Linked DNA regions of Homo sapiens. The protein of the gene in region 2 purifies or fractionates together with the protein of the main gene of each other region. This does not show direct contact. Each region holds a gene or a part of one and is shown on either strand. Other genes may lie near its edges. The genes, in order: ACTR10, GPS2, CYTH3, DAPK3, GID4, PPFIA3 and PPFIA1.

Region 1 (3,500 bases), on a different chromosome or scaffold from region 2:
GTTCTAAATTGTTGGGGAGCACTACCCCTAGGAGGAAAAGCTCTTCACAAGTAAGTTTCTTGGAATTTAACATATTCATTTCACCTGTGCCACAAAAACAGTTGCTAATCTGTTTGTTGATCAGTGATCAATAGAGGGCTTGTGATACGGACAGTGAATTTTATTCATTCCGCCCTCTATTAGCTTCGAGTATATTCATTTTTTAAGAATAAACCAGTTTTTTAAATTTTTAATTTTTGGGGGTACATAGTAGGTGTATATATTTATGAGGTACCTGGGATGTTTTGATACAGGCATGCAATGAGAAATAAGCACATCATAGAGAATGGGGTATCCATCTCGTCAAGCATTTATCCTTTGAGTTACAAACAATCCAGTTATACTCTTTACATGATTTTAAAATGTACAATTAAGTTATTATTGTCTACAGTCACCCTGTGGTGCTATTAAATAGTAGGTCTTACTGTTTCTATTTTTTTGTACCCATTAATTATCCTCACCTCCCTTGTATCCCTCCACTATCCTCCCTGGCCTCTGGTAGCCATCTTTCTACTCTCTATGTCCATGAGTTACATTGTTTTGCTGTTTAGATCCCACAAATAACTGAGCACATATAATATTGGTCTTTCTATGCATGGCTTATTTCACTTAACATAATGATCTCCAGTTCCATCAATGTTGTTGCAAATGACTGGATCTCATTCTTTTTTATAGCTGAATAGTATTCCATTGTGTATATGTACCACATTTTTTTCTTTTTTTTTTTAACTTTTATTAAGTTTAGAGATACAAGTGCAGGTTTATTACATAGGTAAACTTATGTCATGGGGAAGACCTTTATTATTATTATTATTATTATTGAAATGGAGTCTCGCTCTGTCACCCAGGCTGGAGTGCAGAGGCATGATCTCGGCTCACCGCAACCTCCGCTGCCTGGTTTCAAGCGATTCTCCTACCTCAGCCTCCCGAGTAGCTGGGACTACAGGCGTGCGCCGCCACGCCTGGCTAATTTTGGTATTTTTAGTAGAGATAGAGTTTTGCCATGTTGGCCAGGCTGTTCTCAAACTCCTGACCTCAGGTGATCCACCCGCTTCAGCCTCCCAGAGTGCTGGGATTACAGGCGTGAGCCACCGTGCCTGGCAGGAAGATCATTTTTATTTAAATCATAATAATCGGGCTGGGTGTGGTGGCTCACACCTGTAATCCCAGCACTCTGGGAGGCCAAGGCAGATGGATCACCTGAGGTCAGGAGTTCAAGACCAGCCTGGCCAACATGGCAAAACCCTATCTCTACTAAAAATACAAAACTTAGCCGGGCATGGTGGCGGGCACCTGTAATCCCAGCTACTCGAGAGGCTGAGGCAGGAGAATCACATGAACCTAGGAGGTGAATGTTGCAGTGAACTGGGATTGCGCCACTTCACTCCAGCCTGGGCAACAGAGTAAGACTGTCTCCAAAAAAAAAATCATAATAATCTATTATGTAGTTGAAAGTATCAAATAAGGATATCAGTTTCAATATTTTCATTCCAGTAACTTTTTTTTTTTAATTTCAGAGAGTTGGAAACTCAACTATTGGAACAATGTACTGTTGACACAAGTGTTGCTAAAGAACAGAGCCTTCCCTCAGTGATGGGTAAATTCATTTTAAGTGGTTTAGGAGTGGTTTACACTCTCTTTTTGTTCTTCAACTTGTATTTTAGTCTTTGCTCCATTGCATGATTATTCTCTTTTCTCCCCATGCCACTCTGATGGTACTGCTTCAACTATAAGCTCACCATTGAACTTTTAATCACTAAATTCAATAGTTTGATTTTAGTCATCCTTTCCAGAACTTTTGACATTGTGGATCATCATGTACTCTTGAATGCTTTCTTCTCCTTGGCTTTCAGGATTCTTTTTTTTAGTGGTTGTCTATTATTTCCCCAAATATTCCTCTGGTTTCCTCTGCTCTTGCTTTCTCTACTTGTATTCGACTAGGGATCTAGTGTTTGTTCCTTCTTTTTCTCTACTGGCTTTTTAACTGTGATCTTATCTACTCCCACAACTTCTACATCTGCATGCTGTTGATTCTGAAATGTGTCACTGGGCCTGATCCTTCTTCTGAACTTGATATTCATATTTCCAACTGATTATTAGAGACTGTGCATGTCTCTAGGCACCTCAAACTTAAGATTTCCAAAAGTGAATACATTATGTCTTTCCTCAAATTCATTTCAATTATTAGATAAAGGTAATATTTTCCTTGTCTCCCGTTTTACAAAACTGGAAGTTAGCCTTTCAATTCTTCAGAAATCTCTTTCAGATCTCATTTTTCTTTCTTTCTTTTTTTTTTTTTTTTTAACCTTCCACACCATTGAACACCCGAGAGCAAAGACATTGTTTTAATCTAGGCCCTCATTTCTTAGATTATTACAGAAGTCTACTCTGGATGGATTCGGTCTGTTTCACACTGTTGCCAGGAATAACTTTCCACAAATATTTTTATGTTTTTGAGACAGGATCTCACTCTGTTGCCCAGACTGGAGGGCAGTGGCGCGATCTTGGCTCACTGCAGTCTCCACCTCCTAGGCTCAAGCCATCCTCCATTCTCAGCCTCCTGAGTAGCTGGGACTACAGGCGCAAGCCACCACACCCAGCTAATTTTTGGGGGGTACATTTTGTAGAGATGGGGTTTTGCCATGTCGCCTAGGCTGGTCTCGAACTCCTGAGCTCAAGCAATCCACCAGCCCCCGCCTCCCAAAATGCTGGGATTACAGCCTGAGCCACTGTGCCCAGCCAATTTTTCACAAAATAAATATAAATACATTGCTCTTTTGCTTGAGAATTTTTGTAAGCTCCTACAGGTTAAAATCCAAATTATCTGTTGGATATAAATGTTTCTTCAAAATCTGAGTTTGTTCTACCTCTTATCCTTAGGTCACTAAACTTTATCCTTTGCTCCTTATTAAAGCTACAGTAAATTTCTTACAGTTGTCGAGGCACCGTGAGTCCTAGCACAGCCCTGTGCCTTCATTTATTCTTTTTCTTTCCCTGGGATGTTTTTCTTTGCCTAGTTTGGTTTTTGATCCCTCTGCATGACTCAGCTGGAATGTCATCTTAATGGTGAAGCCTTCCTCATCTTCCCTAAGCAGAATAAATTGCTCCTCTCTGTTAAGCCCTTGGCAGTAATTTATTATAGCACATATGACACATTCTCATTTGCCTCTTAACTCACTTGTTTCCCCCAGGAGACTTTGAGGATCCCTGTCTTATTTATTTTTCAATCTGCAGCACCTAGTATAGTGCTAGGGCATTGAATATATGTTGGAAAGCGAGATTTTTGCGACACTTAGGCATACCTATGTTTTCCTGTTGTTCCCTATTGATAGTTAAGTTAATAGCATTTTTCATTCTGTAGATCCAATTATAGCTTTCAAATTCCAGATAACTTTGTGATGTCTTAGTATATTTTGGTGACAGGTAATTTATAAAAGGTCTTCAAAGATAATAAATTCAGT
Region 2 (4,021 bases):
GACAGCAGTGCGGTTGGTGTGGACATCCTAAGAAGGTGGGAGAGATTCGAGCAAAGGCTTGAAGAAGGAAGTGAAGGGTGTAGCTGAGCAGGCTTTGGGAGGAAGAGCATTTCAGGTAGAACAGCTAGAGCGAAGTTCCCATAAGGTGGGAGTATTTCCTAGGTACAGCAAGGCTTGTGTGGTTGGAACAGACTTTGCAAGGGGGAGGTGATGGGGCGAGAGGCTTCACTCCCTTATTTTTTCTTGTCTGACAGATTCCGGGACCCCAAATCCCAGCGGACGCACCAGGCTCAGGTGGCGTTCCAGGTGTGTGTGCGCCCTGGCTCCTACACCCCGGGACCCCCTTCCGCTGCCCTTGGAGAACCTCCTGACCCTCACTTCAGTCCAGCCGAACTTGAGTGGGTCACTAAGGAGAAGGGGGCCACACTCCTCTGTGCCCTGCTGGTACGGGTGGAATGAGGGGTGAGACACCACTACTACAAGCACAGTCGGGCCGCGGGCCCATGGACTCTGAGTGGCGACTGCCTCCACCTCATTCCCGTGACTCGTGGCATGCGCAGGTGCTGGAGCTTGGCAGCCGCGCAGGAGCATGTAGGCAGGCTCTCAGATGTAGGTGGCAAGTGGCACAGCTCCATGTCCGGAGGCCCAGCACTCCGTCTGATGGGAGGAGTCGTGGGAGCCCAGCTCCAGGCCCTGGTACCCCTCTTCATGCACTGATTTGGGGAACATGACTCCCTTTTACTCCCCTACCCCACATCACTTAATTTATTTCCGTTTTTGTTTCTGGTTACTGTGAATCCCAGAGGAGTCTCTCCCTGTGCCCACATGAAGCTGCTTTTTCCGGGGCCACCGGGCGGGAGTGGGGAAGGGTGGGCGCACGGAAGATGGGGGCCTCTGTACAGTTGTTACTGACTCTGATTTCTAAGGAGCCAATAAACACCGTCTCAGAGCCTCCGCCTCGGCCTCTCTCTCGCGCGCCCCTCTCCGGAGCCCGCGTCCCCTGGGGTGCCACCAGGTGGGCCCGCGAAATTAAAGAGAGCTGAGGATGCCAAGGCCAGTCTGCAGCCGTCGTCGCTCACGTTCCCGGCGACGGGGTTTGTACGCCGCGGGCACCCGTCGCAGCGCGCTTCCGCCTTCTTTCACCTGTGAGGTCGGCCGCCGCCGTGACTCCGGAAGGACTCGGCCGGGCCGCCGGATGTGACGCAGGGGCCAGGGCGCGTCGGAGCCGCTGAGAAAGCGCAGAGAAGGCGGGTAGGAAGGGCAGTCGTCCGCGCTGGCTGGGCAGGGAGCGGCAGCAGCGAGCCGGGGACCCCGGCGCCGCCCGCGCGCGGTGGGACTGGGGCTGCGGTCCCGGCCGGGTGGCGGGCTCCTGGGACACGTGACCGGGGCGGCGAGCGGGCCGGGCGGACGGGCTTCCGCCTGGGCCGGGCGCGGCCCCCTCTGAGCGCCCGCCTCCCCGCAGGCCCCGTCTGAGGTCTGGCAGTCAGAGACAGCCGGGCGCCCACGGCCCGAGCGCCCACGGCAGCACCATGCCCGCACTCCTGGAGCGCCCCAAGCTTTCCAACGCCATGGCCAGGGCGCTGCACCGGCACATTATGATGGAGCGGGAGCGCAAGCGGCAGGGTGAGCCGGGGCCATAGCAGGGGGACGCACGGCCCAGAATGGCTCCTGTACCTCAAGGCTGGCCTCAACCCACCGGCCAACCAGCGCGCCCGCTGCCGAGCGCAGAGGAGGGAAGGAATAGCCCCGTTGTGGTGGGATTTAAGCGTCCTGTTCCACGCTCCAGAACCCTTGAGATGGGAAGGACCTTGGAGAGCACCTGATAAAGCCTTTCCGTTCCCTATTGCCGCGATGGGGAGCTTGTCCCCTCGAGGCAAAGAGCATACAGGCGTGTTGGGATGACTGGGTTTTGCTGGTCTTCAATCTGTAACGTTGGAATTGTTTTCACTACCCTGCCTCTTCTTCATTCTGCCTGATTCTCCAGAGGAAGAAGAGGTGGATAAGATGATGGAACAGAAGATGAAGGAAGAACAGGAGAGAAGGAAGAAAAAGGAGATGGAAGAGAGAATGTCATTAGAGGAGACCAAGGAACAAGTAAGCAGTCCCTTGAACTTTCCCAGCTTTGATTTCTTCGTTTGACTCTCCCTGCCTTCATCTTCTTTTCCCACCCCATCCCAGATTCTGAAGTTGGAGGAGAAGCTTTTGGCTCTACAGGAAGAGAAGCACCAGCTTTTCCTGCAGCTCAAGAAAGTTTTACATGAGGAAGAAAAACGGAGGCGAAAGGAACAGAGGTGGGATCAGAGTGCTAAAAACTGAAATGGGGGCCAAGTGGAACTGGGATCAGGTAGTAAAAGAACCAGTGTTTAATGGCAAAAGAGAAGGCATCTGTCCTTGACTTTGACCTGTCTTCCTTTCACTCCAGTGACCTGACCACCCTAACATCAGCTGCATACCAGCAGAGCCTGACTGTTCACACAGGAACTCATCTCCTCAGCATGCAGGGTGAGGACTAAAGAAACCACCAGATGGAACCGGCCTTCTTGGAGGTCACAGCCTCCCATTTCAGCATCATGAAGCCCTTCTCCCTTTCTAGGGAGCCCTGGAGGACACAATCGCCCAGGCACCCTCATGGCAGCTGACAGAGCCAAACAAATGTTTGGACCCCAAGTGCTTACGGTGAGAGTAGGATTGGATGCCTAGCCCCTAGTACTTCCATCCATGCATCCTTGCCACCAGTATTCAAGTCACAAACATATCAAGCACTTAAGTTTAGGGGGAAACGGGGCATACAGATACACACAAGTCACTGGGTTTCAGCTTTCAAGGAGTTTGTAGGCGAGTTCTCATTCTCCTTCCTTAGACCCGGCACTACGTGGGCTCAGCAGCTGCTTTTGCAGGGACACCAGAGCATGGACAATTCCAAGGCAGTCCTGGTGGTGCCTATGGGACTGCTCAGCCCCCACCTCACTATGGGCCCACACAGCCAGCTTATAGTCCTAGTCAGCAGCTCAGAGGTGAGTAATAGGAGGGATGGGGCTTGGCCTTCCTCAAGGTCAAAGGAGGAATGCCATTCAGTAAAAGATTTTAATGGCTCTGTCTTTTCCTTTCTCAGCTCCTTCGGCATTCCCTGCAGTGCAGTACCTATCTCAGCCACAGCCACAGCCCTATGCTGTGCATGGCCACTTTCAGCCCACTCAGACAGGTGATAACATCCCATGCAGGAGCTCTAGCTCTCAGGTCCTCCCCTCCCTGTTTCATTCTCATCTCACATGCCCCTCTTCCCCACCTAGGTTTCCTCCAGCCTGGTGGTGCCCTGTCCTTGCAAAAGCAGATGGAACATGCTAACCAGCAGACTGGCTTCTCCGACTCAGTGAGTATGGCACCTTGGGAGGTCAGGGTTAGGGATATGTTAAGGGGAGCTTCAGTATGCCTCAGGCCCTGACTCTGTTCTCTGCAGTCCTCTCTGCGCCCCATGCACCCCCAGGCTCTGCATCCAGCCCCTGGACTCCTTGCTTCCCCCCAGCTCCCTGTGCAGATGCAGCCAGCAGGAAAGGTAAGAATGGTAATAGAATTTACCTGTCAGAATCCCTACACTAGGGATCCGGAAAAGCAGGATTAGGTAGGACAGGTGGCCCACATCATCTGGTTTTTCCTTCCTCTTTGGGGGTGGTTATCAGTAGGGTATTAAGTGGAAGGGAGAGTATGCCCAGTGACAAAGCCCTCTTTTCATCACCACCACCAGTCGGGCTTTGCAGCTACCAGCCAACCTGGCCCTCGGCTCCCCTTCATCCAACACAGCCAGAACCCGCGATTCTACCACAAGTGACCATCAGATTATATCTTCAACACCACACCCCCCACCCCATCGTGGGTGAGGGTATCCCCTGTGTGTCCCAGGCCAATAAAATCTACCTGCCACTGCCCCTGGCTGCTGCTGTTTGTGTTGCCTCCCACCCAACTGTCTGGAATAGGTCAAGGTTGCTTGGAGGGTGGGGGGATGGCTGGCAGGTCCACAGCAAGT
Region 3 (3,500 bases), on a different chromosome or scaffold from region 2:
GGGAGGTGGAGCTTGCGGTGGGCCGAGATCGCACCACTGCACTCCAGCCTGGGCAACAGAGTTAGACTCTGTCTCAAAAAAAAAAAAAAAAATTATCTGGGTGCAGTGGCGCATACCTGCAGTCCCAGACCTGCAAACCGTGAGCAGGAAATAACGACATGCACTTCTGTAAATATCACCTGCAACTGCACCTGCACTTATGTGAGTTTACAGATCTTAGACCTTGTACAATGGAATTCTGCAATCAGATATTTATCGAAGGAACAAATAATTAACTCATTAGCACAGAGGCTCAATGCCAGAAAAGCAAGGGGAACGTTAGAAGTACAGACCGACTGGGCCAGGCACGGTGGCTCACGCACATAATCCCAGCACTTTGGGAGGCCGAGGCGGGCGGATCATGAGGTCAGGAGATCAAGACCATCCTGGCTAACACAGTGAAACCCCATCTCTACTAAAAATACAAAAAATTAGCCGGGCGTGGTGGCGGGCGCCTGTAGTCTCAGCTACCCGGGAGGCTGAGGCAGGAGAATGGCGTGAACCCGGGAGGCGGAGCTTGCAGTGAGCCAAGATCGTGCCACTGCACTCCAGCCTGGGTGACAGAGCAAGACTCTATCTCAAAAAAAAAAAAAAAAAAAAAAGTGCAGACCGACTGAAGACCACAGGAGTGGCGTGAACCAGCTCTGCAGCGAGACCTTCCCGTGGACACGCCGTTCCTCTCCTCAACCCTGAAGACTCAGGTCTACCCTTCTTTCTCAAAACCAAAATGTCCCCCAAAAAGCTTCACAGATTCTGCCAAATCCCTTAGCTCGGTCTCAAAAACAAGCAGCTACATGTTTCAGGTTTCACGGTTTTCGAGTGTCTCCCTAGAAAATCCAACTTGAGGAAAGAGAAAGATGCTGGCTTAAATGTGGAGGATCCCTTGTTTTTTCACAGACACCTGCTTTTTAAGGTGAATGGAGGAATAAAGTCCTCTTATGTGAACCACTTAACCCACCCAGATTATAAAGTCCGTAACCTCTGGACACCAGGGTTCCACTCCCACCCCTGCTCCTTCCTAGTCACGTGATTCCCTGACCCAGGTCAAGCGGGAAGATGCGAATATGAGCCTCGACAGCAAGGGCACTGCCTGGAGCCAAGCCCGGCCTGTGCTGAGTCGTCCAAGCCGTGCCTGTGAGGCTGCTTCCTCACCCAGCAGCTCACTCTGAAAGAAAGGCCTTTCTGCCCAGGGCACCAGCCCTACAAGGCACTTCTGCTTCACCCCACTCGCGAAAAGCCCCTTTTTGATAAAAATGTGCCTTCAACTCCCAGTCTTTTATGAGGTGACAGGGCGGACCACCTCTGACCTCTGTCCAAAAGGGAAACGGCAGTTCAAATCAATTAGTCCATCTCCTGCAGGCCAGAAAAGGGAGAGCATTCTCTTACCTTTTTGGGATCCATGTTGAATTTCTTTCTTCCCATGGCTATCTGTTTGTTCCTCTGAGTCGTTTTGCTATTGGTGTGAAATAATTTAAAAATCACTCATGCTGTTTTCACAATGCAGCCCAGTCACGGCCCTCCAGTGTACTTTCCCCCGCAACAACGGGCTCAAGGAAGCGAAGCACAGGCCCTCACGGAGGGGCCCCCAGTCTCCGCAGTGGCGGCAGGGGTGGTGCAGCCACCATTGCTGTTCACATTTGATAACTTGAGACACTTCAGAAAAAGCTAATGATGCAAACCAGTGATTTTAATAAAGCACAGTTCCTTATGACGCAGGCAGGTAATTTCTGTGCGGGTCAACCCTGAAGTGCCTGTGCTTATGCCTGAACCTATAAAGGCAGATGATGACTTACAGAGGAGGCAATGGGAGGTAACATCCAGGGAAACACCCCTGGACCCCTCCACGCAGAGTAGGGGGAGAGGAGAGGAATTAACAACTCCACAGGCTCCCCACATCCCAACCACTCTCACCCCACTTTCTGCAAGTTTGACTACAGGATGGAGGTAGAAAGAAAAGAGTAAATAGCTTAAAGGTGTAGCCACAAATTGTTACCTCTCCTCTACGGAAGTTAGATTGTCGATCTCTGTCATCACCTCTGCAATTTCATATTTCAGCCTCTGTCAAAAAAGAAGAATTTCGAGGTGGGGAGTGGGTCTTAACCTTCCTCCCCTGAGACTCAGAAATTTTAGTTCTCTTGTGACAAGCTTCCCTGCGGTCTCACCGGAGCATCACAGGGATGGAAAAACCAATACTATTATCAATACAGCTAGAGCTTCATAGTCAAAGCCACCACAACTTAGGAGAACACAAAATTCTTTGCTCACTTTTCATCAGATACCAGGTTCAGAGGGGTCCACTCTGCAGATCCTAGGGTATTTGTATATAAAATCAGGCAAGCACACTGGGGGGGGAATATCACAGCTGTGAAAAGATAAAACCAAGCCAGGAGCAGTGGCTCATGCCTGTAATCCCAGCATTTTGGGAGGTTGAAGCAGAGGGATCGCTTGAGATCAGGAGTTTGAGAACAGCCTGGGCAATGTAGCAAGGCCTCATTGCTACAAAAAAGAAAAACAGAAAAATTAGCTGAGTGTGGTGGTACATGCCTGTAGTCCTAGCTACTAGAGAGGCTGAGGAGGGAGGACTGCATGAACCCACGAGTTTGAGGCTGCAGTGAGCCATGATCACACCACTGTACTCCAGTCTGGGTGACAGAGCAAGACTTGGTCTCTTTTTTTAAAAAAAACAAAAAAACAAAAAAAAAAAGCCCAGCAAAAGGAAAGCCATGAGTCCTCAGTTCGCTTAACTGCACTATTCAGCCCTGCCATGCAAACAGTTGTCACCTGCCTCCTCCTTCAACACTGCCTGTGTTCCCAGGGAGAAGCTGAGGCTCGGGTGTGTTTAGATCGGTGGTCTCAGGCTGAAGCTCAGGTGTGTTTAGGTCAGTGGTCTCAGGATCACTTGTATCACCTTGAATGAGATGAAGCACCATGGACAGAGCCCGGGGGTGAACAGAACTGACTCAGGGCACTCAGAGAAGCCAAATGCATCCAAGGGGACAGACCCCCTTTCCCTTGATGTGACCCCTACTAATGAGACTGACCTCTGGAAGCCTCCAACTTCCCTGGGCCTCAGTGTGCTCACTGATAAAATGAAGTAGTTAGAGCTAGATTACGATTCCACATTTATCCAGCAGGCTGATTACTAAGGTCCAAATAATATACATCCTTATTCTTCAACCAGAGACCAATTCTGGGTTATCTGATTTTCCCAAGAATGAAGGGTAACCTTAGAAGAAAAATTTCCATGAATTACCTTTCAAATACAAAGACATTTTTATTCAGGACCCTATTATATGCCAAGACACTCGGACTTAAAACGCAAACTCCTAGAAAGGAGCTATTGTCTGGGACAAGGCCTGTCCTTGCCGTGGCCTGTGAAGCCACATTTATTTTGGCAATGACAATGACTAGAAAGCTTCTCAAAGAAGACCTCCATGTCTGATTGACTTTCCCAAGGAAGC
Region 4 (3,500 bases), on a different chromosome or scaffold from region 2:
TGGCCAGTGTGGGGGTGGGGATGGGGCGGGGAAGAGCCTGGAAGGCACCTCCTGCGCGTGGGGGTGAGGTGTGGGGAGCGTGGGGGTGAGGTTTGGGGAGCGTGGGGGTGAGGTTGGGGGAGCGTGGGGGTGAGGTTGCGGGGAGCGTGAGGGTGAGGTTTGGGGAGCGTGGGGGTGAGGGTGGGGGAGGCCCGTGCTTTCCCTGCTGAGCCTCCTCCCACCCCAGCCGGAAAACATCATGCTGCTGGACAAGAACGTGCCCAACCCACGAATCAAGCTCATCGACTTCGGCATCGCGCACAAGATCGAGGCGGGGAACGAGTTCAAGAACATCTTCGGCACCCCGGAGTTTGTGGGTGAGGCCCTGCCCAGTGGGCAGCCCCGGCCTGGGGAGGGTGGTCTGGGGCTGCCTGCTGTGCGTGGGGTGGGTCATGCCCGGTGCTGGGTGCCGCGTCCTCGGCCCTGAAGCCACCCCTCTTGGGCCCGGCTTTGCGGGAGGTCTGGGCCTCCATTTGGTGCAGCCCCGCTGTCCTACCCGTCAGGCCCTGAGGGCCAGCTCTGCCGCATTCATGCCCCCAAGGGCTGCGACATGTGAGAACCTTGACCCCATGCCTGTGTCTTGAGCCTCTTCCTTGGCCAGCATGTCCCCAGTGCCTGACCCACATCTCCCTGTTCTGCAGCCCCAGAGATTGTGAACTATGAGCCGCTGGGCCTGGAGGCGGACATGTGGTGAGTGTACCACCTGCTCCCACCGGGCCTCCCTGCATTCCTGGAGCGCAGGCCAGTGCTGCAGCTGGGGATGAAGCGGGGCCTTGCTGCTGTTGGGGTATGGGGGGACCGTTGCCCTAGAACAGGGGCGCTGGACGCCACGGTCCTGGGAGGGTGGGCGGCCCCACGCTGCGCTGACCCTTGCCTCTTGTCTGTCCCCAGGAGCATCGGTGTCATCACCTATATCCTGTGAGTACCTGGCGGGGGCCCCCTCGGCTGTGCAACACAGCTGGCATGGGTCCCCGGCTCCGTGTGTCTCATGTGGACGCCAGGGGTCCCCAGCCTGGCTGTGACCCATCGCGGGTACTCAGGGGATACCGGGTGAACGGATGAGTGATTCTCTGTGGCTGCTGTCACAGAGGCTTCTGGAGAGTTCTGAAGGCAGGACACTCACAGAGCGGCTGAGCAGGCTCCGGGTTGGGGGTCGTGTGTGCTCCTGTCCCTCTGGCTGCTAGGGAGCCCAGCCTCCTCTCGAAGTGCAAGGAAGGGGTCCGACCCCACGCTGGGTTTTGGCTCCTGTCCCTGGGCCACACGTGGGCCTGCTGTTGTTTATTATTTTTATTTGTTGAGACGGGGTCTTACTCTCTTGCCCAGGCTGGAGTGCTGTCCTAGCTCACTGCAGCCTCCACCTCCCAGACTTAAGCAATCCTCCCACCTCAGCCTCCTGAGTACCTGGGACTACATGTGCACACAACCATGCTCCCATGCTCGGACTTTTTTTTTTTTTTGATGGAGTTTTGCTCTTGTTGTCCAGGTTGGAGTGCAGTGGTGCGATCTCAGCTGCTCACTGCAACCCCCACCTCCCAGGTTCAAGCGATTCTCCTGCCTCAGTCTCCTGAGTAGCTGGGATTACAGGCGCCCACCACCATGCCCAGCTAATTTTTGTATTTTTAGAAGAGACGGGGTTTCACCATGTTGATCAAGGCTGGTTTTGAACTCCTGACCTCAGGTGATCTGCCTGCCTCGGCTTCCCAAAGTGCTGGGATTACAGGCGTGGGCCGCTGCACCCAGCTGGCTAATTTTTTTTTTTTTTTTTTTTTTTTTGAGACAGAGTTTCGCTCTTGTTGCCCAGGCTGGATGAAGTGCCAAGGCCCCGTCTCAGCTCAGGCTTACTGCAACCTCTGCCTCCCGGGTTCAAGTGATTCCCATGCCTCAGCCTCCCAAGTAGCTGGGATTACAGGTGCCTGCCACCATGCCTGGCTAATTATTTGTATTTTTAGTAGAGACGATGTTTCACCATTTCGGTCAGGCTGGTCTTGAACTCCAGACCTCAAGTGATCCGGCCGCCTTGGCCTCCCAGAATGCTGGGATGACAGGTGTGAGCCACCGTGCCCAGCTGGCTAATTTTTAAAAGTTTTTGTAGAGGTGGAGTTTCACTGTGTTGCCCAGCCATATTGAATGGGCATAGCTCATTCAGTAAGCAAGGAAATAAACAATGGCGTGGGCCCAGCCCGCTGTAGTGCGTGAGCGGACCCAAAGGCTTCAGGAGATGGGCTAGACCGTTTGTATTCTTTTTAAATGTTCAGATAATTCAGACTTACAAAGGAGCAACAGAAACAGCACAGACGCCCCCTGCAGCTTCCTCCTCCTTCAGTTTACATTTTTCATGAACACGAACGTTATGAACACCAAGACGTTAGCCTTGGTGCTACGCTAATCACAAAAGTGCTAGATGGGCCGGGTGCGATGGCTCACGCCTGTAATCTCAGCACTTTGGGAGGCTGAGGAGGGCAGATCACGAGGTCAGGGCATTGAGACCATCCTGGCTAACACGATGAAACCATGTCTCTACTAAAAATACAAAAATTAGCTGGGTGTGGCAGCGGGTGCCTGTAGTCCCAGCTACTCAGGAGGCTGAGGCAGGAGAATGGCATGAACCCAGGAGATGGAGTTTGCAGTGAGCCGAGATCGCGCTACTGCACTCCAGCCTGGGTGACAGAGCGAGACTCCGTCTCTAAAAAATTTAAAAAATTTAAAGTGCCAGAGGTGGTTAGACACCCCCGTTTTCCACTCCTGTCCTCTCTGAGGTCCCCACACGGCATTTAGCCATTCAGCTCCTTCGCCGCCTCCAGTCTGAGGCTGTTCCTCTGTCTGGCTTTCATGACCTTGACCCTGACTTGTGCTCACGGGTCAGGTGTTTTGCAGAAGGCGTCTGAGTCCACGTTTAGTCTCGTGCGCTGTCACGATCAGACGATCAGACGGGGCTTCAGTGTCTCTGCTCAAAACCCCAGGGATGATGCTGTGTCACCCTCCCAGCGTCAGGCTGGGAGGCAGACGCTGTTGGGGCCTCTCACTGCCGGGCTGTTGACCTTGATCCTTTGGCTAAGGTGTTGGCTCGGGCTCCCCACTGCAGTTACCCTCCCCTCGGCGTTACTGAGCACTGGGGGCTTTCGGGCTCTGCGTCTGCACAGATACTTCGAGTCTCCAAGGAGACTTCTGCCTGTTCATTTCTGCTGCTGTCAGTGGCGGGGTGGGGGGGTGGATTTTGAATGCCTCTTGGGTGGTGTCTGGGATCGTTGCAGGAAGGTTCTAAGGGCTCAGGAGTGTGAGTGGCCCAGGCACCTGCCGTCAGCCTGTCTTCTGTGCTCCGCCTGTCGTGGGCAGCCGGAGAGGCGGCGCGGCCGTGGTGGGAGCCCAGGACCCCACTGAGCCCCCACGCCTGTCTCGCAGCCTGAGCGGTGCATCCCCGTTCCTGGGCGAGACCAAGCAGGAGACGCTCACCAACATCTCAG
Region 5 (3,500 bases), about 11 Mb from region 2:
TTTTGAGATTGGCTTCCTTCACTTAGCATAATGTCCTCAAGGTTCATCCATATGGTAATATGTATCAGCACTTATATTCCTTTTTATTTTGCATTGTTCATTGTAACAATTGTCCATTGAATGGATATACAACATTTTGTTTATACAGTGATCAGTTGATGGACATTTGGGTTGTTTCCACTTCTGGCTACTATGAATAATACTGCTATGAACATTTATGTACAAGTTTTTATGTGGATGTATATTTCACTTTGGTAGATAACTACCTGGGAGTGCAATTGCTGGGTCACATGGTAACTGGGTTTTAACATTTTGAGAAACTGGCCCTGCATTGTTTTACATTTCCACCAGCAGTGGGTGAGGGTTCCAGTTTCTCCACATCCCCGCCAACACTCACTGTTCATCTTTTTTGTTGTAGCCATCCTAGTGTTTTTGAAGTGGTCTCTCACTGTAGTCTTGATTTGAATTTCTATAATGACTGTGCTGTTGTGCATCTTTTCTTGTGTTTTTGTTGTTGTTGTTGTTTTGGAGTACTTTCTTTTCTGTGATTCTAGTGTAAAGAGTTCCTCAAACCTTTGTGAGTTTCTGACTGGGTCTCCTCTCCACCCCGCACTTACTGTGACTCCTCTTTCCTCCTCTGCCATCTAAGAAGCCAGCAGTAGAAGGGAGCCCTGGTCGCTGTGAAAGGAATATTTAAAAGAACAGCCGTTGGACACAGCTGTGCTGTGACACCTTCTTGCTAAACACGTGCCCTGTTATCTTTCTTGAGATGCTCGCCTGCCGTTTGGTAAAAGCTGTATGCGTTGTGGTGTATTTGAGTTCACCAACCATTATCAAGATCAATTTGGGCAGAGTAGAGAGACGCTTGGTTGAATGGAGGCCAAGCTGAAATTCTGATTCTTGAGCATGTGATAATCCATGCAAAATGTTAGCCAATTTACATTTCAATTTTTAATCTTATTAGCAAGTATCCTTGCCACCTGATACACTTTTCAGCAGCTGTGAAACTCCAAACTATATTGAATTCAATGAGAATTGCATACATGAAATTTAAAGACTCAGGTTAGAATTATGTGTCCTTTAATAAAAGTTCTTTGCTGAACCATGTTAGCGTGGATTAGCTGTTTTAGATAATGTCCAGTGCCAAGGTCAGCAGATGAGGATATTTAAAATGCTTTGGCAGTTTTCACAGGGAATACCTTTGTCACCAGCACCAAACTGTGAAGGCACTTTGGCTTCATTGAAGTTCATTTGCTTTGGTGCTGACATCATCTGGTTGACTAAGTTCATTACAGTTTTTAAGCATGGCTTAGTATTTGATTTATGGTATAATTGGAAGTAATCAGGTTCACAAATCTGATAAATGCCACAAAACTATTCTAATTTCTTGAAATAAGACCTCACTTAACATTAAAATCTCAGTGTACCACAGGTACCCTTGTACTTGGTTTGCTTTAATTCAAGGATTTACCTTGTAAGTGAATCCAATTGTCATGAAATCTGAAACTCCCTATTCAGAATGAGTCTGTATAGATTTGGGTGAAATCTCACATCAGGAGGATTTTTGAGGTGACGTGGCTTCAGGTTGGTTAATTCAGAGGCCTACGATGGGCCCAGTTTTTTCCATCTTTCTAACTACCATCCTCAGCATTTCCTGGCCTGTTTCTCCCCTGTGGTCTAGATGTCTCCCCCAGGACTGGACACTCCATGCGGATACTGTCACCACTAGGGGACAAAAAAGCCATTTCTTCCTCATGCGCCTCTTCAAAAGCCAGGGATTTTTCACAGATGCACTCAGGAGACTTACACATCTGATGAGCCAGAAATGGGTCACTCACCCCTAAATACATGACTTGCAAGGGGATAGGGACACCTGTGTGCCTTAGATCCATCAGGTTGACCAAGTCTTACGTGGTAGGTAGGTACCAGAGCAAAAACTGGACCCTGCCAGCGTGAAAAAGGAGGAAATTGTTTGTTGGGTAGGCATCCGGCAGTGTCTCAGCAACCAGTAATTGGTGACTGCTAAACCTCAAAGTCTACTATGCCTGTTATTTCTATTTATTTTAGGCTCCTGACTCTTTTCATTAAGAAACACAGCATCCATATATAAAATGCACAGAGTGAACATTCACAATATAGTCAGACTTTTGGTTGGCATTTTGGTTCATAACTGAAGTTTATACCACATAAATCTTTATAAGATGCCATTTCTGAACAGTCTGCCCATTTCATAAAGAGATAATGCAGGATGATGTTTAGTGTAAAAACTAGAAGAGGAGCAGACCTCCTAGACCAATGATTGAGCAATACAGAAATAGAAAAAGGCTTGAAAGACATTAGAAAGAAAGTCAAGCCTGAGGTTAGGGATGACACCACGTGTACAGGCAGAGACAGAGGCCCTGTGCCCAGCAATGCTCAAGGTCTCTAGATGACCGGGAGACGTGTGTTGAAGATAGTACAGAAAATGAATTTGAGTGGGCACCCCATTTCAGAAAGACACTTCAGTCTCATGATATTCAGCTGAAGAAAGTTGAGAGGGTCTTGGGATCAGTTTGCTTTGGCAGAACAGGCATGTGTGTGGGGAGAACTTATCAAGATTCCAGAGACTGGGTGAGCCTTGGACTGCCCTGGGTGTTCACTGACCACCAGTCTGGCCTCACAGGATTTGCAGAGTACCCTCCTGCATGTCCCCTAGTAAGTTTATCTATTTGTGACAGGCTGTGTATCCTTTCTTTTCAGCACGTGGACACGGGGAACTCTTACCTTTGTGGGTACTTGAAGATTAAAGGCCTTACTGAGGTAAGCACTTGCTCACACAAACCAGCACTAGAAAGTCTGTGGTGTGCTCCACAGGCTCATTGGGGTTCAGGGCAGGCGGTCTCAACTCCTTGAGGCCTAATTAAAGCAGACTACTCCTGAGCATTGCTACTGTATAGGGAACATAAAACAGGCAGTTTCAGTGTGTCCTGTTGAGAAGTGTACAGATTCACAAATGTTTTAAAGAAAAGTTTATAAGTACATCATAATTGTCACAACCAACACTATTGATTTTATTTTTAATCCTTTTTGGGGGAAAAAATAATAAGAATATAGCTGCCACCCTCATCATAAGTTTAACAGTTTCTGAGATAAGCATCAGTCCTATAAAAAATGAGCTTTTAAGTTCTTTAAGCCTCTTAGTTAATTGGAACAATGAAAAGTTACTGACTGGTCGCGGTGGCTCATGCCTGTAATCGCAACACTTTGGGAGCCTGAGGTGTGCAGATCACTTGAGGTAGGGAGACCAGCCTGGCCAACATGGTGAAACCCCATCTCTACTAAACATAAAAAAAAAAAATTAGCCGGGCATGGTGGCACAGACCTGTAGTTCCAGGTACTTGGGAGTCTGAGGCACAGAGAATCACTTGAACCAGAGAGGCAGAGGTTGCAGTGAGCCAAGATCACCATGCACTCCAACCTGGGCAACAGAGCAAGACCCTGTCTCAAAAAAAAAAAAAAAG
Region 6 (3,500 bases), on a different chromosome or scaffold from region 2:
TGTATTTTTAGTAGAGACAGGGTTTTGACACGTTGGCCAGACTGGTCTTGAACTCCCGACCTCAGGTGATCCGCCCGCCTCGGCCTCCCAAAGTGTTGAGATTACAGGCGTGAGCCCCTACGCCTGGCCCTCGTTCCAACTTTTGATTACGAGACATTTCAAACATACAGAAAATCATGTGTACCCAGTTCAGCGATTCTCAAACTTTTGCTGTACTTGCTCTGTTGTGTGTGTGGGGTGGAGGCGGGGAGTGGGGAGTACAGGTTGAGTGTCCCTTACTTGAAATACGTGGGACCAGAAGTGTTTAGAATTTCTGATTTTAAAAAGTTTTTTTTGAATATTTGCATATAAATGAAATATCTTGGGGATGGGAGCCAAGCCTAAACATGAAATTCATTTATGTTTCATATGCATCTCATACACATGCCTAAAAAGAATTTTATACAATATTTTATTTTTTATTTTTATTTTATTTTTTCGAGATGGGAGTCTTGCTTTGTCGCCAAGGCTGGAGTGCAATGGTGCGACCTCGACTCACTGCAACCTCTGCCTCCTGGGTGCAAGCAATTCCAATCCTCTGCCTCAACCTTCCGAGTAGCTGGGATTATAGGCGCCCACCACCACGCCCTGCTAATTTTTGTATTCTTAGTAGAGATGGGGTTTCACCATCTTGGCCAGGCTGGTCTTGAACTCCTGACCTCGTGATCCACCTGCCTCAGCCTCCCAAAGTGCTGGGATTACAGGCGTGAGCCACCGTGCCCGGCCTACAATATTTTAAATAGCTTTGTGCATGAAACAAAGTTTTGACTGCATTTTGTTTGTGACTTGTCACATGAGGTCAGGTGGGGGATTTTCCTCTTGTGGCTTCGTGTCAGCACGTAAGTTTAGGGCCAAGCACTGTGGCTCACACCTGTAATTCCAGCATTTTGGGAGGCTTTGGATGGCCGATCTCTTGAACCCGGGAGTTCGAGACCAGCCTGGGCAACATGGCAAAACCCCATCTCTACTAAAAATACAAAAATTAGTCGGGTGTGGTGGCGTATACCTGTAGTCCTAGCTACTCAGGAGGCTGAGGTGGGAGGATCCTTTGAGCCCAGGAGGTCGAGGCTGCAGTGAGCTGTGATTGTCCCACTGTACTGCAGCCTGGGTGACAGAGAAAGAGTGCATCCAAAAAAAAAAAAGTTTAGAATTTTGGAGCATTTTGGATTTTGGATTTTCAGGTTGGGGATGCTCAGAGACCTGTACTTGAATGTAATTGGAGAAAGTCATAACATCTTAGCCCCCAAAATTACTTTAGTGGGTCTTTTTCTTCCTTGTAAACACCACATCCTTTATCACACCTAAGGGCATTCACATTGTTGTTAATTTCTTTTTCTTTTCTTTTCTTTCTTTTTTTTTTTTTTTTGAGATGGAGTTTCACTCTGTCGCCCAGGCTGGAGTGCAGTGGTGCGATCTTGGCTCACTGCAACCTCCGTCTCCCTGGTTCAAGTGATTCTCCTGCCTCAGCCTCCTGAGTAGCTGGGATTAAAGGCACACGCCACCATGCCCAGCTAATTTTTGTATTTTTAGTAGAGATAGGGTTTCACCAACGTTGGCCAGGCTGGTCTTGAACTCCTGACCTCAGGTGATCCACCCGCCTCTGCCTCCCGAAGTGCTAGACCACTCTCAGCCTAATTTTTGTATTTTTAGTAGAGATGGGGTTTCTCCAGGTTGGCCAGGCTAGTCTTCAATCTCCAAAAGTGATGTGCCCGCCTCAGCCTCCCAAAGTGCTGGCACTACAGGTGTGAGCCACCACGCCTGGCCACAGTTGTTAATTTCATTTACTATTCACTCTGTATTCAAATTTCCCCAACATACTTAAAATATGTTCATTGTTTCTCCCCCACTAGGACGAAAAGTGTCTGTCGTGTCCCTTGCCATATCCCACACCCTATGACGGTGACTGGTGCCTGACACTCACCAGAAGTACATAAATGTTTTTATCCTTGTATGGATTCCTAACTCGTGAGGTTGTTGGGAGCAGAAGCTCAATAAATGTGAACCCCCCCCGCCATACTCCCTAAACATTTGCACCATGGCTGTGTCTGTCCCCCACTTCTGAATCCTCATTCTGTACCTCTGTGTGAGGTCAGCGAGGTGACGTCATTTGCACAGGGCCACACAGCAAAATGCATGGCAGGGTCCCAATTCCAACCTGAATTTGTTCAACTCCAAAGTCACATTGCCTGGTACATGGCAGGTGCCCTATAATAAGAATCATTCCTTTTCTCTGTTACTGCTTGCCCCAGAAAGCAGGAGGGACATAAACGTGTGGCCCAGGGCCTTCAGGAGGACACCCTCCTTCCTCTCCCCCACGCGAAGCCCTCTCCCACCATCCATTAACACTCCCTGCCCCTCAGTCCACAGGAAACGTGTGGATGACACACGAGGAGATGGAGTCCCTTACGGCCACGACCAAGCCCGTGAGTGCCCCCTGCCGGCCGCCTTGGGGGTGGCACTAACCTTCTTTGGGGGTGGGGGCGGGGACCGAGTCTGTGGCCATCCCTAAGTCCGCTCCTTGCGTCCTCCTCTGCCTGCCCCTTAACTCACCCCTTCTCTCCCCTCTTCCTACTAACGGGTCAGGAGACCAAGGAGATCAGCTGGGAGCAGGTAGGGGGCGCGGGGCGGGGCGTGAGCGCATGAACAGGCTGTGCACGACGCATGGATGCCCCTCCTCCGAGCCCTGCCCCTGCCTTCACCAGAACATGCCATCATCCCCATGGGGGGGCGCTGCGCCAAGCTTGGCTCTGGACTGTTCCATTATGGCTTGGCGGTGGGGAGGGTAGAGGGGATGCGATGTGGAAGCCCAGACTGTTGCATAGTCAGCCTTATGCATGGACCATTTCATCATCGTGGGTTGTGGGGGCTCTAAGGGGCTTCAATTCTGTAGCTCAGGAGAGACTGAGCAGCCGGTGTCCCTATAGTGGAGGGGGCGGGGGCTACAGTGGACTGCTCAGTGTACCAGGGCCAAGGAGGACACACTGGCTGTGGTGGTGGTGAGGCAGCCAGGCTGAATGAGAAGTTGGGGAGGAGGAGCTACACTTTGTTCTCAAGAAACAAGAGGCGGCCGGGCGCAGTGGCTCACGCCTGTAATTCCAGCACTTTAGGAGGCTGAGGTGGGCAGATCACCTGAGGTCAGGAGTTTGAGACCAGTCTGGCCAACATGGTGAAACCCTGTGTCTACTAAAAATACAAAAATTAGCCGGGTGCAGTGGCTAGCGTATGTAATCCCAGCTACTTGGGAGGCTGAGGCAGGAGAATCGCTTGAACCCAGGAGGTAGAGGTTGCACTGAGCCGAGATTGCACCATTGTACTCCAGCCTGGGTGATAGAGCCAGATTCCATCTCATAAAAACCAAACAAATAAACTAACAAAAAAACCCAAGAGGCATGAACTCACTGTCCACGGAGGAATTATGTTTGACTGTGGTCATAGATCACATATTTCCAGCCAGGGGGAGG
Region 7 (3,500 bases), on a different chromosome or scaffold from region 2:
TATAATTGTGAATTTGCCTGTTTCCCCATTTAGTCCTGTTGGTTGTTGCTTTATCTCTTCTCTAAAACTATATTTTAACTGACTTTTACTGATTTTGAAATGGATTTTTTCTTTAGGAAAACAAAGTGTTAAAATGTAAACCAACCAGAGATAATTTTAGTGAGCAGTGTTGAATTGAGCCTTCAAACTTGTTCATGAGTCGTGATCAATCTTTGTCACATTATTATACTAAAAACTATCTCAGAGAGGAAATTTATAGCCAGTTACAGTTTTTTTGTAGTTTGATTTAAAAGTTAAATTTATCACAACGAATCATATATTTTTCATGTTACTATTCCTGTTGTATAAAAATTTTACTAACAAATTTAAAAGGTGAGAAGAGATCAAATTATTTTGCAATTATAAAATTATCATTAGTTTAGCCTTTGAGAATATAGGTAATAGATTAAAAATTCATTTTAAAAATGATATAAACTACTTTTGAGACTTCCTCTGTAACTGACCTTTTCCATTTATGAAAAGCAGACACTCGCCTATGGGGACATGAACCACGAGTGGATCGGCAACGAGTGGCTCCCCAGCCTGGGCCTCCCCCAGTACCGCAGCTACTTCATGGAGTGCCTTGTAGACGCCAGGATGCTGGACCACTTGACCAAGAAAGACCTTCGAGGGCAGCTGAAAATGGTCGACAGTTTTCACAGGTAACTTAATGGAGATAGTTCTTAATAATTGGCTAAGATTTTTCACTGTTACCATCTCTAAATCATCTCTCTTTTCTTCCAAATAGAAACAGTTTCCAGTGTGGAATTATGTGCCTGAGAAGGTTAAATTATGACCGGAAAGAACTGGAAAGAAAAAGAGAAGAAAGTCAGAGTGAAATAAAAGGTTAGTACATGACATTTAATTGATTCGGTTTACTCCTACTTGCTGGTGTGTTTGGAGCCTCAGTGACTTCCTATTTTTCAAAAAATCAAGAAAGGCTAAATTTAAGTGGAGAAAACTAACTAGTCTAGTGTCATTGCAGAGGAGGGCTGGATGAAGTTGAGTGCTTTTGAGATTCTCTTCCACAGCTAGAGAACTGTTCCCTGTGTTCTCACACATCAGTCTGGAGGTTAAATGTCTCCGGCTAGTCGTTTCCTGTGAGTTGAGAGTTTTCCTTTGGTCATGCCCTGTGTACTCCTTCACTCCGAAATGCTGTTCCACACTGTTAGATAACAACAGAGCAAAGCTCACTTGATGATTCAAGTGTGAGAAATATGACTGGGGGCTTATCCAAGGGGTTCAGGAGAACAGGAGAGCACCGTGCAGTTCTGCTCCCGGAGGGGAAGGAGAGGCAGCGTCTGCATTTCAGCTGGTCCTTGAAGAAGGAGGAGGAGCTGCTTAGGGTAAGGAAAAGGCATTTCAGTTGGAAAACACAGGCCAGGGAGGCGTTAGAGGATGTGAGACATTCATCCAGAAGACGTGGAGTTGGTTCTCTTCTCCGTTGGGGAGTCCCTCACTCGTACTCAAATTTATTTGTTTGTTTGTTTATTTATTTATTTAATTTATTTTGAGACAGGGTCTTGCTCTGTAGCCCAGGCTAGGCTGGAGTGCAGTGGTGTGATCACAGCTCACTACAGCCTTGAACTCCTGGGCTCAAGTGCTCTTCCTGCCTTAGCCTCCCTAGTAGCTCCTGGGAGTACAGGTGTGCTCCACCATGCCTGGAATTTTTTTTTTTTTTGTAGAGACAGGGTCTCGCTATGTTGCCTAGGCTGATCTCGAACTTTTGGGCTCAGGGGATCCTCCCACCTTGGCCTTCCAAAGTGTTGGGATTACAGGTGTGAGCCACCACACCCAGTCAGAATTTGCTTTTAAAATTAGACAGTAAACATTAAGCTCAGAGTAATGACTCCCAGAATTCCTGGAATGCAAGGAAGTCACCAATAACAATAATGATAAGAAGAGGCCAGTCTTACTAACAGTGAGTAGGTGCCAGGTGGTGTTCTAAGTACTCAGGGGTTGCTTTCTTTCATCTTTACCTTAGCCCTGTCAGTCTAAGTGCTGTTTTCATCCCCACTTTATACTAAGAAAGAAACTAAGGATAAAAATATGGTTGGGAGATGGCCCAGTTGAAGGGAAGTCTACTTGTGATTGAGTTAATGTGAATCAGGAGAAAAGTCGTAAGTCGACATTTATACAGTGTGTGTATATGTATGGACTTTTATCCAGAAAAGGGCATTGGCAATGAAATATGTCCATCTGTTTTGTTTTCTGTATCTATTTTACATCTTTTTCCAATAGACAAAGATCTTTGGAAGTGTCTTTGGAAGTGATTGGTGATCATCTGCATATATTTTTAGAGTGGCTATTTTTAGATCTAATAGAGCAAATTGAATAATTTGTTAATTTGCATAAGATATTGTGGCTGGGCATGGTAGCTCATGCCTGTAATCTCAGCACTTTGGGAGGCCAAGGCAGGAGTATTGTCTGAGCCCATGAGTTCAAGACCAGCCTGGGGAACATAGTGAGACCCTGTCAGTACAAAAAAATTAGCTGAGCTTCGTGACACACGCCTGTAGTTCCAGCTCCTCAGGAGGCTGAGGTGGGAAAAATCACTTGAGCCCAGGAGGTTGAGGCTGCAGTGAGCTATGATGGTACCAGGCTGTATCCAGCCTGGGTGACAGAGCAGGACATTGTCAAGAAAAAGAGAGGAAAAAAAAAGATTTTCTGCAAAGTCTCTAATGTGCTGGATGATATTGTTAAGTTTCTCTCATTTTAAAATGAGACAAAGACTTCGAGATTAGAAATGAGAGGTTTCTGTTGAATTGAGCAAAGTGTTCATATTATTATGGAGCCAGCTCCATCCGTGATGAAGTATTTCAGAAGACTCTCCAGTCTGTGTGTGAAGCATGTTTATACATGTTAGGTATTCAAGTTCTTGCAGTCCTCTGGCTTCTGATCCCTGGATCCTCATCATCTTCTTTTCTCTAGAAATAATAACTTCATTCCTCTCGTGCTCACTGGAAGGATGAGTTCTAATGGGAGAGTCTCCCTGAGAGTGGAGCAGGGCCAGGACACCATTGTCTCAGTGCAGCAAATGGTTGTCTATTTAGCAGTGTCTCCCAGCACTTTTCTCAGGAGCCGAAGGATTAGGAACCATGGTAGGAATCTTTCTCCTGCATTACAGGGTACATGTGATAAAGATGGCTTTCTGAAGCCACTTTTATAATTGTCTTTATTCTTTTGCAGACGTGCTTGTTTGGAGCAATGATCGAGTGATTCGCTGGATCCTGTCAATTGGCCTTAAAGAATATGCAAACAATCTTATAGAGAGTGGTGTTCACGGAGCACTTCTGGCCTTAGATGAAACCTTCGACTTCAGTGCACTGGCACTGCTGTTACAGATCCCGACGCAGAACACACAGGTGACGCCAAACCTGTCTGTGTCTGCACTCATTGTTCAGTTGGCACCCTGATTATAGACAGCTAGTTATTCGAATAGAAAGAAACTTTAAAAAAAA

The links.
Region 1: the proteins of GPS2 (region 2) and ACTR10 purify together in Homo sapiens (affinity purification with mass spectrometry; 3 studies listed by BioGRID and IntAct, with this or other methods). This does not show direct contact.
Region 3: the proteins of GPS2 (region 2) and CYTH3 purify together in Homo sapiens (affinity purification with mass spectrometry; 4 studies listed by BioGRID and IntAct, with this or other methods). This does not show direct contact.
Region 4: the proteins of GPS2 (region 2) and DAPK3 purify together in Homo sapiens (affinity purification with mass spectrometry; 4 studies listed by BioGRID and IntAct, with this or other methods). This does not show direct contact.
Region 5: the proteins of GPS2 (region 2) and GID4 purify together in Homo sapiens (affinity purification with mass spectrometry; 3 studies listed by BioGRID and IntAct, with this or other methods). This does not show direct contact.
Region 6: the proteins of GPS2 (region 2) and PPFIA3 purify together in Homo sapiens (affinity purification with mass spectrometry; 3 studies listed by BioGRID and IntAct, with this or other methods). This does not show direct contact.
Region 7: the proteins of GPS2 (region 2) and PPFIA1 purify together in Homo sapiens (affinity purification with mass spectrometry; 4 studies listed by BioGRID and IntAct, with this or other methods). This does not show direct contact.

Annotation. Positions count from the first base shown.
Region 1 is NC_000014.9:58,213,649-58,217,148, forward strand, and holds part of ACTR10 (actin-related protein 10), read left to right. Parts: coding exon 1-50; intron 51-1,556; coding exon 1,557-1,636; intron 1,637-3,500. UniProt on the Homo sapiens protein: Part of the dynactin complex that activates the molecular motor dynein for ultra-processive transport along microtubules.
Region 2 is NC_000017.11:7,312,561-7,316,581, reverse strand, and holds GPS2 (G protein pathway suppressor 2), read left to right. Parts: upstream 1-1,221; 5' UTR 1,222-1,251; intron 1,252-1,462; 5' UTR 1,463-1,529; coding exon 1,530-1,623; intron 1,624-1,984; coding exon 1,985-2,094; intron 2,095-2,178; coding exon 2,179-2,291; intron 2,292-2,422; coding exon 2,423-2,502; intron 2,503-2,593; coding exon 2,594-2,676; intron 2,677-2,860; coding exon 2,861-3,014; intron 3,015-3,112; coding exon 3,113-3,202; intron 3,203-3,290; coding exon 3,291-3,370; intron 3,371-3,457; coding exon 3,458-3,553; intron 3,554-3,742; coding exon 3,743-3,826; 3' UTR 3,827-3,921; downstream 3,922-4,021. Other genes in the region: NEURL4 (neuralized-like protein 4), read left to right, coding at 255-459. UniProt on the Homo sapiens protein: Key regulator of inflammation, lipid metabolism and mitochondrion homeostasis that acts by inhibiting the activity of the ubiquitin-conjugating enzyme UBE2N/Ubc13, thereby inhibiting 'Lys-63'-linked ubiquitination.
Region 3 is NC_000007.14:6,185,625-6,189,124, forward strand, and holds part of CYTH3 (cytohesin-3), read right to left. Parts: intron 2,098-3,500; coding exon 2,033-2,097; intron 1,493-2,032; coding exon 1,426-1,492; intron 1-1,425. UniProt on the Homo sapiens protein: Promotes guanine-nucleotide exchange on ARF1 and ARF6. Promotes the activation of ARF factors through replacement of GDP with GTP. Plays a role in the epithelial polarization.
Region 4 is NC_000019.10:3,961,100-3,964,599, reverse strand, and holds part of DAPK3 (death-associated protein kinase 3), read left to right. Parts: intron 1-226; coding exon 227-356; intron 357-680; coding exon 681-729; intron 730-930; coding exon 931-957; intron 958-3,087; exon of another isoform or gene 3,088-3,186; intron 3,187-3,438; coding exon 3,439-3,500. UniProt on the Homo sapiens protein: Serine/threonine kinase which is involved in the regulation of apoptosis, autophagy, transcription, translation and actin cytoskeleton reorganization. Involved in the regulation of smooth muscle contraction.
Region 5 is NC_000017.11:18,042,408-18,045,907, forward strand, and holds part of GID4 (glucose-induced degradation protein 4 homolog), read left to right. Parts: intron 1-2,739; coding exon 2,740-2,799; intron 2,800-3,500.
Region 6 is NC_000019.10:49,143,544-49,147,043, forward strand, and holds part of PPFIA3 (liprin-alpha-3), read left to right. Parts: intron 1-2,399; coding exon 2,400-2,462; intron 2,463-2,622; coding exon 2,623-2,649; intron 2,650-3,500. UniProt on the Homo sapiens protein: May regulate the disassembly of focal adhesions. May localize receptor-like tyrosine phosphatases type 2A at specific sites on the plasma membrane, possibly regulating their interaction with the extracellular environment and their association with substrates.
Region 7 is NC_000011.10:70,371,690-70,375,189, forward strand, and holds part of PPFIA1 (liprin-alpha-1), read left to right. Parts: intron 1-503; exon of another isoform or gene 504-522; coding exon of another isoform or gene 523-525; coding exon 526-701; exon of another isoform or gene 702-787; coding exon 788-885; intron 886-3,228; coding exon 3,229-3,404; intron 3,405-3,500. UniProt on the Homo sapiens protein: May regulate the disassembly of focal adhesions. May localize receptor-like tyrosine phosphatases type 2A at specific sites on the plasma membrane, possibly regulating their interaction with the extracellular environment and their association with substrates.